2 separate regions of the Homo sapiens genome follow, and region 2 is linked to region 1. The links come from fine-mapping of genetic effects on gene expression. Tissue or cell type: tibial artery. Region 1 holds a variant in brackets; the other region holds the start of a gene. All regions are shown on one strand. Distances are between the middles of the regions.

The links. PIP is the estimated chance that this variant, and not a neighbour inherited with it, causes the effect.
Region 2: FSCN2 starts here. The variant in region 1 is the best candidate, but not a certain one, in a credible set for the expression of FSCN2 in tibial artery (GTEx, PIP 0.68).

Annotation. Positions count from the first base shown.
Region 1 is chr17:81,495,908-81,506,756 of GRCh38, forward strand. No RefSeq gene overlaps it. Among named protein-coding and RNA genes, the nearest start is that of ACTG1, 11 kb to the right of the region's middle. RefSeq lists an enhancer at 3,986-4,709. The variant T/C (reference allele first, on the strand shown) is at 5,753.
Region 2 is chr17:81,526,714-81,533,414 of GRCh38, forward strand. FSCN2 (fascin actin-bundling protein 2, retinal) reads left to right here and starts at 1,664. Exons shown (of 5, transcript NM_012418.4): 1 at 1,664-2,644. The coding sequence starts at 1,819. RefSeq lists enhancers at 1,586-2,112, 2,113-2,638.

The sequences.
Region 1 (10,849 bases):
CAGCCTGGGCAACAGGGTGAAACCCCGTTTCTACAAAAAGTGTAAAAATTAGCCAGGCAGTGTGGATCATGCCTGCAGTCCCAGCTACTTGGGAGGCTGAGGTGGGAGGATGGCTTCAACCCTGGAGGCCAAAGCTGCAGTGAGCTATGATTGCACCACTGCACTCCAGCCTGGGCAACACACTGAGACCCCCATCTCTTAAAAAAAAAAAAAAAAGGTAGTGGCTGGAGTGGTGGGAACCCTTTAACACTCATGTCATCATGACAGAGTTGATTATAACCCAATCATGTGGCAGCAACTGACTTGTCCAATGAGGAGAGTAAGTGAATCTCAGTCCAGCCATCCTACAATGAATATTTAATAACCCGGGGAAAAAACTTAAGTTCTAATGGCAAATGGAAAGATTAGGATATACCTGTAGTTGTCTTGGCAAAGTCTTACAAGGTATTATTTATTGAAAGCAACAAGCCAGTTGTGCAAACCTGCCTCATTTGAAATTACTTGGCAGGAATGTTTGGAAAATTCCTCCTATTTAAAAAAACTTCCCCTTGAAAATTAGGAAAAGCCTTAAAATGAAAATACCTGGGAGAAACCTAAAGATGGTTGGCTGAGAGCTTTGAAAATGTGGACATTCCCAGACAAGTTCATAATGATGCCATAAATAAGAATGCTTGCAGCCCGGCTCAATGGTTTATGCCTGTAATCCCAGCACTTTGGAAGACTGATGTGGGAGGACTGCTTGAGACCAAGAGTTCGAGGCCAGCCTGGGCAATATGGTGAGACCCCATCTCTACAAAAAAATTAAAAATTCACCGAGCATGGTGGCTCACACCTTTAGCCCCAGCTACATGGGGAGGCTTGAGCCCAGGAGGTCAAGGCTGCAGTAAGCTATGATCATGCCACTGCACTACAGACTGGGTGACAGAGTGAGACCCTATCTCAAAAAGAAAAAAAAAAATGGAGGCCGGGCATAGTGGCTCATGCCTGTAATCCCAGCACTTTGGAAGGCCAAGGTGGGCAAATCACTTGAGATCAAGAGTTGGAGACCAGCCTGGCCAAAATGGTGAAACCCCATTTCTGCTAAAAATACAATAAAAATTAGCCAGTTGTGGTGCCACATGCCTGTAATCCCAGATACTCAGGAGGCTGAGGCAGGAGAATCGCTTGAAGCTGGGAGGCAGCTATGTCAGTGAGCCAAGATCGTGACACTGCACTCCAGCCTGGGCAACAGAGTGAGACTCCATCTCAAAAAAAAGAAAAGAAAAAAAAATGAACCATGGACATAAATGTAAAATGCAAAATTATAAAAGTTCTAGAACAAAACATAGGAGAAAATCTACATGACCTTAAATTAGGTCATGAGTTTTTTTGTTTGTTTTTTGTTTTTGTTTTTTTTTTGAGATGGAGTCTCAATCTGTGTCCCAGGCTGGAGTGCAATGGCATGATCTCAGCTCACTGAAACCACCGCCTCCTGGGTTCAAGCAATTCTCCTGCCTCAGCCTCCCAAGTAGCTAGTATCACAGGCGCTCATCACCATACTCGGCTAATTTTTGTATTTTTAGTGGAGACGGGGTTTCACCGTGTTGGCCAGGCTGGTCTTGAACTCCTGACCTCAAGTGATCTACCCATCTCGGCCTCCCAAAGTGCTGGGATTACAGGCATGAGCCACTGCACCTGACCAGGTCGTGAGTTTTTACATACAGCACCAAAATCATTATCTATTAAAGAAAAAACTGAATTGATATTATTAAAATTTAAAACTTGGGCTGGGCACAGTGGCTCACATCTGTATTCCCAGCACTTTGGGAGGCCGAGGCGGGTGGATCGCTTGAGGTCAAGAGTTTGAGACCAGCCTGGCCAATATGGTGAAACCCAATCTCTAATTTTAAAAAACACAAAAAGTAGCCGGGCGTGATGGTGCACACCTGTAGTCCCAGCTACTTGGGAGGTTGAGGCAGGAGAATTGCTTGAACCCAGGAGGCGGAGGTTGCAGTGAGCCGAGATCATGCCACTTGCACTCCAGCCTGGCTGACAAGTGAAACTCCATCTCAAAAAAAAAAAAAAAAAAGAGCACGGAAATTCAAATTCCAACACACTCTGCACCACAGGTCCGCCTTGAGGACTGTGCGTTAAGTGAAATAGGCCAGTCACAAAAGACAAATCCTGTACAGTTCCACATGTAGGAGGGACCTAGAGCAGCTAAATTCATACAGACAGAAAGTGAAATGGTGGCTGCCGGGGGCTGGGTGGAGGAGAAGGAGTTGTTTGATGGGTACAGCTTTTTGGTTTTGCAAGATGAAAGTTCTGGAGATTTTGGCTGAACAACAGTGCAGATGCTCAGTGCCCAACTGTATGCTCAAAAGTGGATGGCTGGGAGCGGGGGCTCACTCCTGCAGTCCCAGCACTTTGGGAGGCGGAAGTGGGCAGATCAGCTGAGGTCAGGAGTTCGAGACCAGCCTGGCCAACATAGTGAAACACTGTCTCTACTAAAAGTACAAAATTAGCCGGGCGTGGTGGTGTGTGCCTGTAATCCCAGCTACTTGGGAGGCTGAGGCAGGAGAATCGCTTGAACCCGAGAGGTGGAGGTTGCGGTTAGCCGAGATCATGCCACTGCACCCCAGCCTGGGCGACAGAGCGAGATTCCGTCAAAAAAAAAAAAAAAAAAAAAGAACCGGGTATGGTGGCATGTGCCTGTAGTTCCAGCTATTCAGGAGGCTGAGGTGGGAGGATCACTTGAGCTTGGGAGGTTGAGGCTGCAGTGAGCTGTGATCTTGCCACTGCACTCCAGGCTGGGCGACAGAGCAAGATCCTGTCTCAAAATTTGAAACAACTTCAAAGAAGGAAAGGAAGCTATGCCTGTTGCATACAAGCAGAATCTTCCTCGCGGCTCGGCCTGCTCCAGCCTCCCGGAGGATGAGCCTCTGACCAGGGCCGGCCCAGGTGCCACAGTCACAGCCAGTGGCCCGCAGTTCTGAGGCCCCTGGCACCGCTGAGGCGTCCCTGGAGCTTCCTCACCAGCCTCACGCATCCTGCCGGGGTGGCGGGGTCAGGGCCCACCTCTGGGCACGGGAGGCGTGGGCCTCACGGGCCACGGATGGGAGCCCAGGGCAGGGGGCTGGAGCCCTCGGGGGTCAGAGCCCGTGCGCCTTCCAGGGCGGAGGCGGTCAGCCGATGGACCAGGCGGTGCCGCAGCGACAGAGGGGGTTGAGATCGGGGCTTTCCCCTGCGACCAGCTCGCAGCCTGACGTCGGCCTCGCTCTGGGGAAACCAAGGCACGGGCACGCGCGGGCGTGGCGCCAACGTCCTCGCTGCCGGCCCCGCCTCGCCCGGGACAGCGCCCCGGCCCTGCTCCCCGCTCTACGGCCCCGCGCCCCGGCCATCTGCGGCTCCTCTTGCTTCGCGCCCGCGCCGCGCTCTGCCCACGCCCAGCCCCGCAGCTTCTCTGTGACCCCCGCCTGCCGCACCCCGGCTAGGGGCTTATTAGCGCCACGGAGCTGAGCTGGACGTGTCCAGGATCTGGGGAGGGAGCAGCCCAGAGAGGGCAGGGCCTGGCCAGGCCTCCCCAGGCAGCCCTGCGGTCCTGCAGCCACGAGGGGAGGGGACGCCACAAATCCGGGTGCCGACCCGGGCCAGGAGAGTCGGGAAATGGGCCTTGGCTGGGACCCAGGCCGACTCTGATCCCGCGGGCCTCGTAGCCCCTCCAGCCCTCGGCCATGCAAAGTGGGGGTCCCACGGGATGAGCCCCAGTGTGGGAGCCCAGCTCGGACAGACATCACCCCTCAGTCCCCCGACCCTCCGCCCCAGGAGAGAAGCTGGACGCTTGCCTGGGCGACCAGGTCCAGGCCACCCTAGGCAGTGAGGAGCAGCAGGGGGCCATGGCGAGAGGACAGGGAGGGCCTCTGTTGGGCCTCGGAGGTGGAGACCCCACTGCTGAGCCACAGCTGGGGCATGCATTGGCTTTCTTCTGAGCATCTGTCTGGGGAACCGCCGTGGGAGGAGCAGAGCCCCTCGGGCACTGGTAGGGAAGCCAGGCTGCCAACAGCCCTGCCACCCTGGCTGCAGGTTCTGGAGCCGGGGACCCTCTAGGCTGAAGTTCTCCAAGTGGGTTGAGCCCAGGTATCCGTTTATCCTAGGTAGGCCTCCATGCCTGAAGGTCCCGGGCTCCTCTGGACCACCCGTCCTGCCAGGGGGCAGACAGGCCTCCTGTCCCTTCCTGTTCTGTTCTGCTCCCTAAACTCCAAGCTAAGTGTGTCCCTGGGCAGCTGGGTCTTAAGAGCCTGAAAGGCTGCATGGAGTCTGTTTGTTCGTTCAGAGGAATCTCAGCTATTTCCTGGGAGGCTCCATCTGAGCCTGGTAGGTCCCGGATGAGGGGTGGGTGGCCCGGTGAGCAGGTCAGCCTGTCCTCAGGGGCTTGCAGCACACCCGCCAGGGTGGCAATTATCCAAAATATAGAAAACAAGTGCCACTGAGGATGTGAAGCAACTGGAACTCTTGTCCACTGCCGATGGGAATGCAAGATGAGGCAGCTGCTGTGGAGAACTGTTGGTTCCTCAGAAAGGTGCACAGAATGACCCTATGACCAGCAGTCCACGCCGGCCACAGACCCCAGAGAACTGCAGGCAGGCCCTGGAACACATACTTCACAAGCAGAATGTAGTATAGACATATACTGCAGTATTTCTCAGCTTTAAAAAGGAAGGGCCAGGCACGGTGGCTCACGCCTGTAATCCCAACCCAGAGGGTGAGGCAGGTGGATCACTTGAGGTCAGGAGTTGGAGACCAGCCTGGCCAACATGGTGAAACCCCGGCTCTTCTAAAAATACAAAAATTATCCAGATGTGGTGGTGGGCACCTGTAGTCCCAGCTACTCAGGAGGCTGAGGCAGGAGAATCACTTGAATCCGGGAGGCGGAGGTAGCAGTGAGCCGAGATCGTGCCACTGCACTCCAGCCTTGGCAACAGAGTGACACTCCATCTCAAAAAAAAAAAAAAAAAAAAAAAAAAGAGAGACAGAGGTTGCAGTGAGCCTGAGATCACGCCACTGCACTCCAGCCTGGATGATGGAGAATCTGTCTCAAAAAAAAAAAAAAGGAAGGAAGGTGTGGTGGCTCACATCTGTAATCCCAACACCAACACTTTGGAAGGCAGAGGCAGAAGGACTGGTTGAGCCCAAGAGTTGGAGACCAGCCTGGGCAACATGGCAAGACCCCATCTCTATAAAATAAATAAATAAATAAAATTGGCCGGGCGCAGTGGCTCATGCCTGTAGTCTCAGCACTTTGGGAGTCCAAGGCAGGCAGATTGCTTGAGTTCAGGAGCTCGAGACCAGCCTGAGTGATACGGTGAAACCTCGTCTTTCCTAAAAATACCAAAAAATTAGCCGGGCTTGGTGGCATGCACCTGTATTCCCAGCTACTCAGGAGGCCGAGGTGGGAAGATCACCTGAGCCCAGCCAGTGACTGAGCTTGCACCACTGCACTTCAGCATGGGCAACAAAGTGAGACCCTGTCTCTAAAAAATAAATAAATAAAAGTAAATAAATTAAATTAGCCAGGCGTGGTGGCACACGCCTGTGGTCCCAGCTACTCCAGAGGCTGAGATGGGCAGATTGCTGGAGTCAGGGAGGTTGAGGCTGTGGTCAACTGTGATTATGCCAGTTCACTATGGCTTATGTTACACTGCAAGACCCTGTCCAAAAAAAGAAAAAAAAAAAAAAGGAAGAAAATTGTTGTTTAATAGATATAGAGTTTCAG[T/C]CGGCATGGTGGCTCACGCCTGTAATTCCAGTACTTTGGGAGGCCGAGGTGGGAGGATTGCCTGAGGTCAGGAGTTTGAGACCAGCCTGGCCAACATGGTGAAACCCTGTCTCTACTAAAAATACAAAAAGTAGCCAGATGTGTTGGTGCATGCCTGTAGTCCCAGCTACTTGGGAGGCTGAGGCAGGAGAATCCCTTGAACCCGGGAGGCGGAGGTTGCAGTGAGCCGAGATCGTGCCACTGCACTGCAGCCTAGTGACAGAGCAAGACTCCGTCTCAAAAAAATAAAAGAAAATAGTTGTAGAGTTTCAGTTTGGGAAGATGAAAGAATTCTGAACATGTGGTAATAGAGGCACAGCTTTGTGACGTAATGACTGTACACTTCAACACCATTAAAATGATCAATTTTGTGTTATGCATGTTTTACCATAATCTAAAACAAATTTTTTGGGGGGCTGGGCGTGGTGGCTCACACCTGTAATCCTAGCACTTTGGGAGGCCAAGGAGGGTGGATCAACTGAGGTCACGAGTTCAAGACCAGCCTGGCCAACATGGTGAAACCCCATCTCTACTAAAAATATAAAAATTATCTGGGTGTGGTGGTGGATGCCTGTAATCCCAGCCACTTGGGAGGCTGAGGCAGGAGAATCGCTTGAACCCAGGAGGCAGAGGTTGCAGTGAGCTGAGACTGCACTATTGCATTCCAGCCTGGGCAACAGAGCAAAAACTCTGTCTCAAAAAAAAAAAAAAAAAAAAAAGAAAGAAATTTTTTTTTAATCCTGCATATCGGGGAGGGAGATGGACGAGTAACAGAGGGTGGAAGTGGAGGAAGGCGTGCTTCCCGGGAGAGGACTGGGCTGTGTGGGGATGCTGTGGACGGCTGCACAGGTGGTGCACTGCACAACTGCAGGGGATGCCATTCACATAGACCATGATGCTGCATCATGTGTGAAGTATGCACCACGGCAGTCCTCTCTGGAGGGCACCCTGAGAAGGGCCGCCAGCAGGGAGCTGGACAGCACGGGGACACATCCTTTCCAGCAGGAAAGGATTCCAAACGACCACCAGCAGGCGGGCAGGCCAAGCATAGCTGAAGGGAGCCATGGGAGGCCACGAGGTGCTCTGTGTACAGCAGGCAGCCCCAGCACTTGGCCCACGTGCTGCACAGAGGAAAACACCTGCCCACAGCTGTCTCTGGCTCTGATGTTTAGGACCCACCTCCAACCAAGCAAGGGTCCTGTAAGTCAGAAAATCTCTCAGTCATCGGAGCCAGGATTTGCCAACGTGAACCACTGAACTTCCCCCTTGGTCTCCATCCTCTATGAAAACATGAAAGGGGTTTGAAATTGCATCCAATAAACACAATGTCCATCTCCTGCCGGGGAAAATTGGTCTGGGTAGAGGGATGCCGGTGGTGTGGACAGGCTCTGAAAGCTGCAGGAAGGCTCGGCTTGGAGAACATCCTCCACCTCTGCCTACCATCAGGACCCAGGGATCCTGGGGAAGGGGAGCCCTTTCAGGAGTGCCCTGAAGTCCCCCAGCACGTGTGACACTTCTCAGAGCAGGCATCCCTTCCAGAAGTTTCTGTTAACTAAGCTGAATGGCATTTAAGATATTGAAAACAGGCTGGGCGCGGTGGCTTACACCTGTAATCCCAGCACTTTGGGAGGCCGAGGCGGGCGGATCACGAGGTCAGGAGATCGAGACCATCCTGGCTAACACTGTGAAACCCCGTCTCTAGTAAAAATACAAAAAATTAGCCAGGCGTGGTGGCGGGCGCCTGTGGTCCCAGCTACTCGGGAGGCTGAGGCAGGAGAATGGTGTGAACCCAGGAGGCGGAACTTGTAGTGAGCCGAGATCGCGCCCCTGCACCCCAGCCTGGGCGACAGAGCGAGACTCCATCTCAAAAAGAAAAAAAAGGAAGGATAGAATTAGAAAACCATTAACCAGGCGTGCTGGTCCTAGCTACTAGGGAGACTGAGGTGGGAGGATTGCTTGAGCCCCTGAGGTCAAGGCTACAGTGAGCCTCTATTGCCACTGCACTCCAGCCAGGGTGACAGAGCAAGACCCTGGAAAGAAGAAAAGAAAGAAAGAAAGGAAAGAGGAAAGGAAGAAGGAAAGCAAGCAAGAAAGAAAGCAAGCAAGAAAGAAAGAGGAGAAAGAAAAGAAAGAGAGAAAAAAGGAAAGAAAGAAAAAAGAAAAAGAAAGAAGGGAGGGAGGGAGGGAAAGAAAGAAGGGAAGGAAGGAAGGAAGGGAGAAGAAAGGGAGGGAGAAAGGGAAAGAAAAGAAGAAAAGAAAAGAAAAGGCCAGGTGCAGTGCCTCATGCCTGTAATCCCAGCACTTTGGAAGGCCAAGGTGGGCAGATCACCTGAGGTCAGAAGTTCAAGACCAGCCTGGCCAACCAACATGGTGAAACCCTGGCTCTACAGAAAATACAAAAATTAGTGGGGCATGGTGGTGGGCACCTATAATCCCAGCTACTTGGGAAGCTGAGGCAGGAGAATCGCTTGAACCCAGAAGGTGGAGGTTACAGTGAGCCGAGATCACACCACCGGACTCCAGTCTGGGCAACAAGAGCAAAACTCCATTAAAAAAAAGAAAGAAATAGGCCAGGCGCAGTGGCTCACGCCTGTAATCCCAGCACTCTGGGAGGCCGAGACAGGCAGATCACGAGGTCAGGAGATCAAGACCATCCTGGCTAACACGGTGAAATCCCATCTCTACTAAAAATACAAAAAAAAAATTAGCCAGGCGTGGTGGTGGGCGCCTATAGTCCCAGCTACTCAGGAGGCTGAGGCAGGAGAATTGCTGGAAACTGGAGGCGGAGGCCGCACTCCAGCGGCGAGAGAGTGAGACTCCATCAAAAAAGAAAGGGAGGGAGGGAAGGAGGGAAGGAGAGAAGGAGGGAGGGAGGGAGAGGAGGAGAGGAGAAAAGAGGGAGGGGAGGGGAGTGGAGGGGGAGAATAATTTGTAACCACTAATGAAATAGCAGGTCCTGGCAGGGATTTCCAATGGCTGCTAATATCACAACATCAGGCTCTGTGGGACTCTTTCCCTCTCCATGAAGTTGCACCCACCCTGTGGTCATCTTCTTGCTAAAAAAATCAACCTGAATGAGATTAAACAGACCAGTTTGGACATTTACACCTAGAGCTAACTGACTATAGGAAATATAAGGGTTGAGGAACGTGCCACATCAACCACAAGGACGAAATCAGCAAAATCCAGACAGGTGGAACCCTTTGGAACAAAAGACCTGCCTTCTTCCACAAATAACCTGAAAGGAGAAAAATGAAAGAGGGTAAATCCCGCGGTTAAAAGAGATTTAAGAGACATAGTGGCCAAGTGCAATGATTGGAAACCAACCGTTAAAAGAAATTTAGGTGGGTCGCGGTGGCTCACGCCTGTAATCCCAGCACTTTGGGGGGCCGAGGCGGGTGGATCACGAGGTCAGGAGATCGAGACCATCCTGGCCAACACGGTGAAACCCCGTCTCTACTAAAAATACAAAAAAAATACAAAAAAATACAAAAAAAATACCCCGTCTCTACTAAAAATACACCAGCCGGGCGTGGTGGTGGGCGCCTGTAGTCCCAGCTACTCGGGAGGCTGAGGCAGGAGAATGGCATGAACCCAGGAGGCGGAGCTTGCAGCGAGCCGAGATCACACCACTGCACTCCAGCCCGGGTGACAGAGTGAGACTCCGTCTCAAAAAAAAAAAAGAAAGAAATTTAAGGCTGGGCATGGTGGCTCACACCTGTAATCGCCACATTTTAGGAGGCTGAGGTGAGAGGATCTCTTGAGACCAGGAGCTTGAGACCAGCCTAAGCAACATAGGGAGACCCCATCTCTACAGAAAGTTTAAAAATTATCTGGGCATGGTGGTGCACGCCTGTAGTCCCAGCTACTCAAGCGGCTGAGGTGGGAGGATTGCTTGAGCCTAGGAAGTCGAGGCTGCAGTGAGCTGTGATTGTGCCACTGCACTCTAGCCTGGGCAACAAAGCAAGACCCTGTCCCCCCAAAAAAACAGACAAACAAAACAACAACAAAAAATTTAAGACAACCAAGGAAATTTGGACATTAGATGATACTAAGTATCGATCAATAATTGGTGGGTGGGGGCATGATACTGTGATTTTTTTTTTTTTTTTTTTTTTTTTGAGATAGAGTCTTGCTCTGTCACCCAGGCTGGAGTGCAGTGGCTCAATCTCGGCTCACTGCAACCTCTGCCATGTGGGTTCAAGCAATTCTCCTGCCTCAGCCTCTGGAATAGCTGGGATTACAGGCGCACGCCACCATGCCTGGCTAATTTTTGTATTTTTAGTAGAGATGGGTTTCACCATGTTGGCCAGGCTGGTCTTGAACTCCTGACCTCGTGATCCGCCCGTCTCGGCTTCCCAAAGTGGTGGGATTACAGGAATGAGCCACCGCGCCCAGCTTGTGGTTGTTTTTTCAAAAAGAGTCCTAGGCTGGGTGCAGTGGCTCATGCCTGTAATCCCAGCACTTTGGGAGGCCTAAGCAGGAGGACCATTGAGTCCAGGAGTTCAGCCTGGGCAACATAGTGAGATGCTGTCTCCAAAAAAAACACAAAAGCAAACAAACAAAAGGCCATGGAGGAGGCCAATCCCCAGCTGTGCTGAGCCAGGATCAGATTCTCTCAGCCCCTTTCAGCAGCACCTGTCCTCCTCTGAGTCAATATATTGCTGTTGCAGCCGGGCGCGGTGGCTCATGCCTGTAATCCCAGCACTTTGGGAGGCCGAGGTGGACGGATCACCTGAGGTCAGGAGTTTGAGACCAGACTGACCAACATGGAGAAACCCCATCTCTACCGAAAATACAAAATTAGCTGGGCGCGGTGGCGCATGCCTGTAATCCCAGCTACTTGGGAGGCTGAGGCAGGAGAATCGCTTGAACCCAGGAGGTGGAGGTTGTGGTGAGCTGAGATTGCGCCATTGCACTCCAATTGGGCAACAAGAGCGACACTCCATCTCAAAAAAGAAAAAAAAAAGAAAGAAAAAGAAAAAGAAATATGGAACATAAAAGTTACCATTTTAATCGTTTAAAAGTGTACAGGCCAGGCGCAGTGGCTCACACCTG
Region 2 (6,701 bases), 29 kb after region 1:
GGCATCGGTGCTAGGCCTGTGTCCTCAGTCCCCTGGAAACTGTGGGAGAGTGTGTGTGGGCATCGTCTCTGGGAAGGGGGTGAAACCCCAGACTGCGTCTCCCCAGGATGGTGCCTGGCACGTGACCTGGTTTCGCACACAGTTGGTGCCTCATAAATGCGTGTGAATCATAGAGGCGGATGAGGCCAGCACACAGGGAGAGGCGAGAGCAGGCCCTGGCGTCGTGGCGTACGCTGTGCCCTGGGGGGTATTTGCATGTGGGAGTCTCTCTGCCCCCACCCTGGCCCCTGAGCGTGGGGACAGTGGGGACAGGTCTCCTCTTTTTCCTCCCCTGTGTCTGCAGGTGCCTGGCACGGTTGCTGTCCAGGGCTTAGAGGACAGAGGAAGAGCCCCTGAGTCTGTGCACACTCTGCCACCATGGCCCTGCCCACCTCTGGAGCCCACAGGTGCCCAGCCCAGGCCCCTTGCTTTTGGCTAGACTCCTGCCCTACGGGGACCCCCATGATGGCCACTCAGGAGATGGGCCCAGGAGGACAGGGGAGTGACTCCAGGCCATGACCGGAAGGGGCCTGTGGCCCCTGTTCCCAGTCCCCAGGGAGACGGGAGGGTCACACGCTGTTATGAGGAAGAGGACACCGGGCTGGCCCTGGCCCAGGGTGGCCAGCTCTGGTTTCACTACTTGGCCCCAAGCCCCTGAGGCAGGTGCAGGAGCCAGGCACGGTGAGCAGGGCCCAGTGCCCCTCAGGCTCTGGGGAAGGGGTACAGCCAGGTGGCCCAGAGCAAGGAGGTGCTGTAGACAGGTGTGACCACTTCCAGTCTCTCCCGGCCTGCTGGCCTTCATCCTCTCCCAGATTCCAAGGGCCACCGCTGGGAGCATGGGGTGGACATCGTCCCACCAGCCTCCTGGATCCACATCCGTAAAGACTCCAAAGTGAAGTGAGGCTGGCTTCACTCCAGCTCACAGCAGAGGAGGGGGCAGCCTCAGGGCCCAGCAACTTGCTCAGAGCGCACAGGAGTGCGCTGGGGCCGGGCCAGCCTGGCCCAGGGCCTCTGACTCTGCCCCCTGCCTGCAGGGCTGCACGGCCACTGTGTTCCACCCTCCAGCGTGGGTGGCAGTCCAGTGCGTCATTCTGGGGCCTGAGCAGTGTGGCCAGAGGCCGGTCTGGGGTGGAGGCGACCTGGGCTGCAGGTTGTGGCTGGGGTCCTTGCTATGCTTCTGGCAGCAGGAATCAGAGAAGCAGTAACTGGATCCAGCTGAGGGCCTGGCGGCCACCGAGGGTACGGGCGGCGATCAGGTTGCGGCCGAGCCGTGAGCGTTCCACTGGACGGCTTCTACATCCGGAAGGGCTGGGCCGGGCCGGGCCGGGAGCCCACACGGGGTTGGAGGAGGGGGGCAGGAACGAGAGAGGCCAAAAGGTGCAGGGCCGTGAAGAGGGGCGCTGGGCCCACGCTATGAGGAAAAGGGGATCAACCCTGCCCTCCAGCCCCGTAGGCCCTCAGGCCCTCGGGCTCTGGGCTCTGTGCAATCCGGGAGTGGCTGAAATCCAAGCTGAGGGTAATGAAAGGTGCTGCTCCTAAGCCGCACGTCTCTGATCCGCCCTCCCCGCCCGCCCTCTGCTGCCCGCGGGCCCTCTAAGAGCTGCCCAGGCTGCTGCCGCGGGTCAGAGGCGGGTCAGAGCAGGCAGGGGGTTCGTGACGCCGGCTGGGTCTGGGGGCTGTGGGCCAGCCGAGCCGACCCGGGCTTCTGGGGGACCGCGGGGGCCGTGAGCACTCAGAGGGCGCATCCCAGGCCCCTCCGGGGACCCGGCCAGCCTGAAGATGCCGACGAACGGCCTGCACCAGGTGCTGAAGATCCAGTTTGGCCTCGTCAACGACACTGACCGCTACCTGACAGCTGAGAGCTTCGGCTTCAAGGTCAATGCCTCGGCACCCAGCCTCAAGAGGAAGCAGACCTGGGTGCTGGAACCCGACCCAGGACAAGGCACGGCTGTGCTGCTCCGCAGCAGCCACCTGGGCCGCTACCTGTCGGCAGAAGAGGACGGGCGCGTGGCCTGTGAGGCAGAGCAGCCGGGCCGTGACTGCCGCTTCCTGGTCCTGCCGCAGCCAGATGGGCGCTGGGTGCTGCGGTCCGAGCCGCACGGCCGCTTCTTCGGAGGCACCGAGGACCAGCTGTCCTGCTTCGCCACAGCCGTTTCCCCGGCCGAGCTGTGGACCGTGCACCTGGCCATCCACCCGCAGGCCCACCTGCTGAGCGTGAGCCGGCGGCGCTACGTGCACCTGTGCCCGCGGGAGGACGAGATGGCCGCAGACGGAGACAAGCCCTGGGGCGTGGACGCCCTCCTCACCCTCATCTTCCGGAGCCGACGGTACTGCCTCAAGTCCTGTGACAGCCGCTACCTGCGCAGCGACGGCCGTCTGGTCTGGGAGCCTGAGCCCCGTGCCTGCTACACGCTGGAGTTCAAGGCGGGCAAGCTGGCCTTCAAGGACTGCGACGGCCACTACCTGGCACCCGTGGGGCCCGCAGGCACCCTCAAGGCCGGCCGAAACACGCGACCTGGCAAGGATGAGCTCTTTGATCTGGAGGAGAGTCACCCACAGGTGGTGCTGGTGGCTGCCAACCACCGCTACGTCTCTGTGCGGCAAGGTAGGGAGGGCACAGGTGGCGACCTCCTGAGGGGTGCTGGGACCCCCCTGCTTCAGGGAGGAGGCCGTGGGGGTCTCACGGGGAGTGGTATCGTGTCTGTGCGTTCACATGTCTGTTCTGGGCTGGGGGTCCATGTGGGACATGTGTGGCCACTCAGGGTGTAGGTGGGTGGGCCTCGGGCCATGCCCAGGCGACCCCCACTGAGGGGTGGTGGCTTCAGGGTCAGAGGCAAGGGTTCCTGGCCTTTCTCAGCATAGCTGGAGAATGTCTCAGCCAAGCCCTGGGCAGCTGCGGAGTCTGAGACTGGAGAGGTGTGGGCCAGGCGATGGGCAGTGCCCAGCAGGGGCAGGAGGCCCACAGCCTGGCCTGGTGCCATGAGGGGCATGTGGGCAGGAGGCTGTGGGGGGTCCATATCTCCCCTTCTTTTTCTCCACCCCATTTTCTGGACTTCATTTATTTATTTATTTTTTGAGACAGAGTCTCGCTCTGTCACCCAGGCTGGAGCGCAGTGGCGTGATCTCGGCTCACTGCAAGCGCCGCCTCACGGGTTCACGCCATTCTCCTGCCTCAGCCTCCCGAGTAGCTGGGACTACAGGCGCCCGCCACCACGCCCGGCTAATTTTTTGTATTTTTTAGAAGAGACGGGGTTTCACTGTGTTAGCCAGGATGGTCTTGATCTCCTGACCTTGTGATCTGTCCACCTCGGCCTCCCAAAGTGCTGGGATTACAGGCGTGAGCCACCGTGCCCGGCTGCATTTTCTGGACTTTAAAGGAAATTGGGGAGGAGCCCAGGGTAGGGCAGGGAGCTGGGGATCGGGCGGGGATAGCACCACCACGTGCCTGACCAGTGGAGCCTCGTGTCCTCAGGAGTGGGGGGGCTTAAGGTCAGCTCCAGTGATGGAGGACACGGTGGGCAGGCAGCTTTACCCGGGGCCTGGGCTCCTGGTGGGGAGGCACCTCCCTGCCCCAGTGGGGCGTGGCCTGGCTCTCCCCAGTTCCCAGGTCACCAGTTGCCTGTCTGTGTGACTCCCTCCACCGCCTATGGGGTGAACCCCAGCAGTTCCTCCTTCCCCACAAGCTGAGCTCTGAGGGAAAAGCCCTGGCCCGGGCAGTCACTACCCACCTGGGCTCCTGGCTCCATGCACCCCAGAGTGGCTCGGAGGTGGTCTGAAAAGGCGAGGTGGGGAGAGCCGGGTGCATGGAGCTCCTCCTCCCAACTCAGGTCCTTCCAGACCAGCATCAGCTGGGCAAGGAGAGCTCCCCTGTCTCCTGGCAGCTCCCAGGTGCCCACCAAGCCCCCACCCTGACGGATGTCCAGGCCCCCTGGGTACACTGACACTCTGGGGCCAGATGGCAGAGGCCCCACCCTGTGCATGGAGAGGGGAGCCCAGCCATGGCTATGGGGTCCTGCACCTGCAGTTGGCATCCTCGGGCCTGTCCCAGCAGTGACAGGGTCCCAGGAGTGAGAATTCAACTGTGGATGCACGGCCATGGCCCTTCCTTCCTATCACAGCCCACAGTCCAGCTGTAATGCCTGCTGGCCTGGGCCCAGGCCGGGCATGTGGCAATCCTTAGGTGGTTAAAGGGGGTAAGTGGGACAGTGGCAGTGAGAATGCTTCCTCCATGGAAGCCAAAGACACTAGACCTTTAGGCATTTGTATATGGACAGCTTGGAAAGCAGACTCAAAGTGGCAGTCATGGCCGTGGCCGTGGCATTGTGGTGTGATGTGCATGGTGGCGTGGAAGTGGAGGTGAGGACGGTGGTGACAGTGTGGTGGCAGCAGCGACAATGATGGTGATGGTGATGATGGTGGTGATGGTGATGATGGTGGTGATGGTGGTGATGGTGGTGATGGTGGTGATGGTGATAATGGTGATGGTGGTGATGATGGTGATGGTGATGATGGTGGTGATGGCGGTGGTGATGGTGATGGTGGTGATGGTGATGGTGGTGGTGGTGATGATGGTGGTGGTGGTGATGGTGGTGGTGATGATGGTGATGGTGATGATGGTGGTGGTGATGGTGGTGATGGTGATGATGGTGATGGTGATGGTGGTGGTGATAGTGATGATGGAGATGGTGGTGATGGTGGTGGTGATGGTGATGATGGTGGTGGTGGTGATGGTGATGATGGTGATGGTGATGGTGGTGATGGTGATGGTGGTGATGGCGATGGTGGTGATGATGGTGATGGCGATGATGGTGATGATAGTGATGGTGATGATGGTGATGGTGATAGTGATGATAATGGTGATGATGGTGATGGTGGTGGTGATGGTGGTGGTGGTGATGATAGTGATGGTGATGATGATGGTGATGATGATGGTGATGATGGTGATGGTGATGATGATAGTGATGGTGGTGATGGTGATGGTGATGATGGTGATGATAGTGATGGCGATGATGGTGATGATAGTGATGGTGATGATGGTGATGATGATAATGGTGATGATGGTGGTGGTGATGGTGGTGGTGGTGATGGTGGTGATGGTGATGGTGGTGATGGCGATGATGGTGATGATGGTGATGGCGATGATGGTGATAGTGATGGTGATGATGGTGATGGTGATAGTGATGATAATGGTGATGATGATGGTGATGGTGATAGTGATGATAATGGTGATGATGATGGTGATGGTGGTGGTGATGGTAGTGGTGGTGATGATAGTGATGGTGATGATGATGGTGATGATGGTGATGGTGATGATAGTGATGGTGGTGATGGTGATGGTGATGATGGTGATGATAGTGATGGCGATGATGGTGATGATAGTGATGGTGATGATGGTGATGGTGATGATGATGGTGATGGTGGTGGTGATGGTGGTGGTGATGGTGGTGGTGGTGATGATAGTGATGGTGATGATGATAATGGTGATGATGGTGATGGTGATGATGATGATGATAGTGATGGTGGTGATGGTGATGGTGGTGATGATGATGATAGTGATGGCGATGATGGTGATGATAGTGATGGTGATGATGATGATAGTGATGGTGGTGATGGTGATGGTGATGATAGTGATGGCGATGATGGTGATGATAGTGATGGTGATGATGGTGATGGTGATGATAATGGTGATGATGATGGTGATGGTGGTGGTGATGGTGGTGGTGGTGATGATAGTGATGGTGATGATGGTGATGATAATGGTGACGATGGTGATGATGATGATAGTGATGGTGGTGATGGTGATGGTGGTGATGGTGATGGTGGTGATGATAGTGATGGTGATGGTGATGATGGTGATGGTGATGATAATGGTGATGATGGTGATGGTGATGATGGTGGTGATGGTGATGATGGAGGCAATGGTGATGATAGTGATGGTGATGGCGATAGTGATAGTGATGGTGGTGGTGATAGTGATGGTGATGGTGATGATGACAGTGATGATGGTGATGGTGGTGATGGAGGGGTGCTGACAGAGTGGTGGAGGGATGGGGACTGTATGGACCATTTTTCAGTCTCTTGATCCTCAACCACCCTGCATCTGACCCTATCATCCCTTTGAGGGGAGAATCCCCTACTCAAGACCAGCTCCCATCTCCCACTTTAGAAGCAGGAAGCAGCAGCCACTCGCCTCCCTGCCTTCAACAGGGCTGAGGGTGAGGACCCAACCACCAGGTGTTTCAGGCTCTGGATTGGCGGCCAGGGCTGTAGGGAGCGGGACATGGCATCTCAGTCCTGGGGCATGGAACCTCACGGCTTCCAAGGCAGCTGCAGCGTGGGTGGTGCCATAGCATCACCCCTACCCGGCCTCTGTGGAGTGGCTACATGGCAGGCCCTTCATCGAGGCATCTCCCTGGCTGGGCGGCCCCTAACCCTCTCTTCCCCCCTGGGAGGGGAGTGAGCACCCAGGCTTGCATGTATCCCCCCCCATCGGCCAGAGCCTGCTCATTTCTGCCAACAGACAGCATGGCAGGCAGTGTCTGATGCTGCCAGTAACAGAAAACTGGCCACAGGCTGGCTCAAGCAGTGACACTGATCATCTCCTGAAACGGGAGTCCAGAGAGCCCTGGGCATGGTGGGTTCCCAGGCAGCCACTATCACCC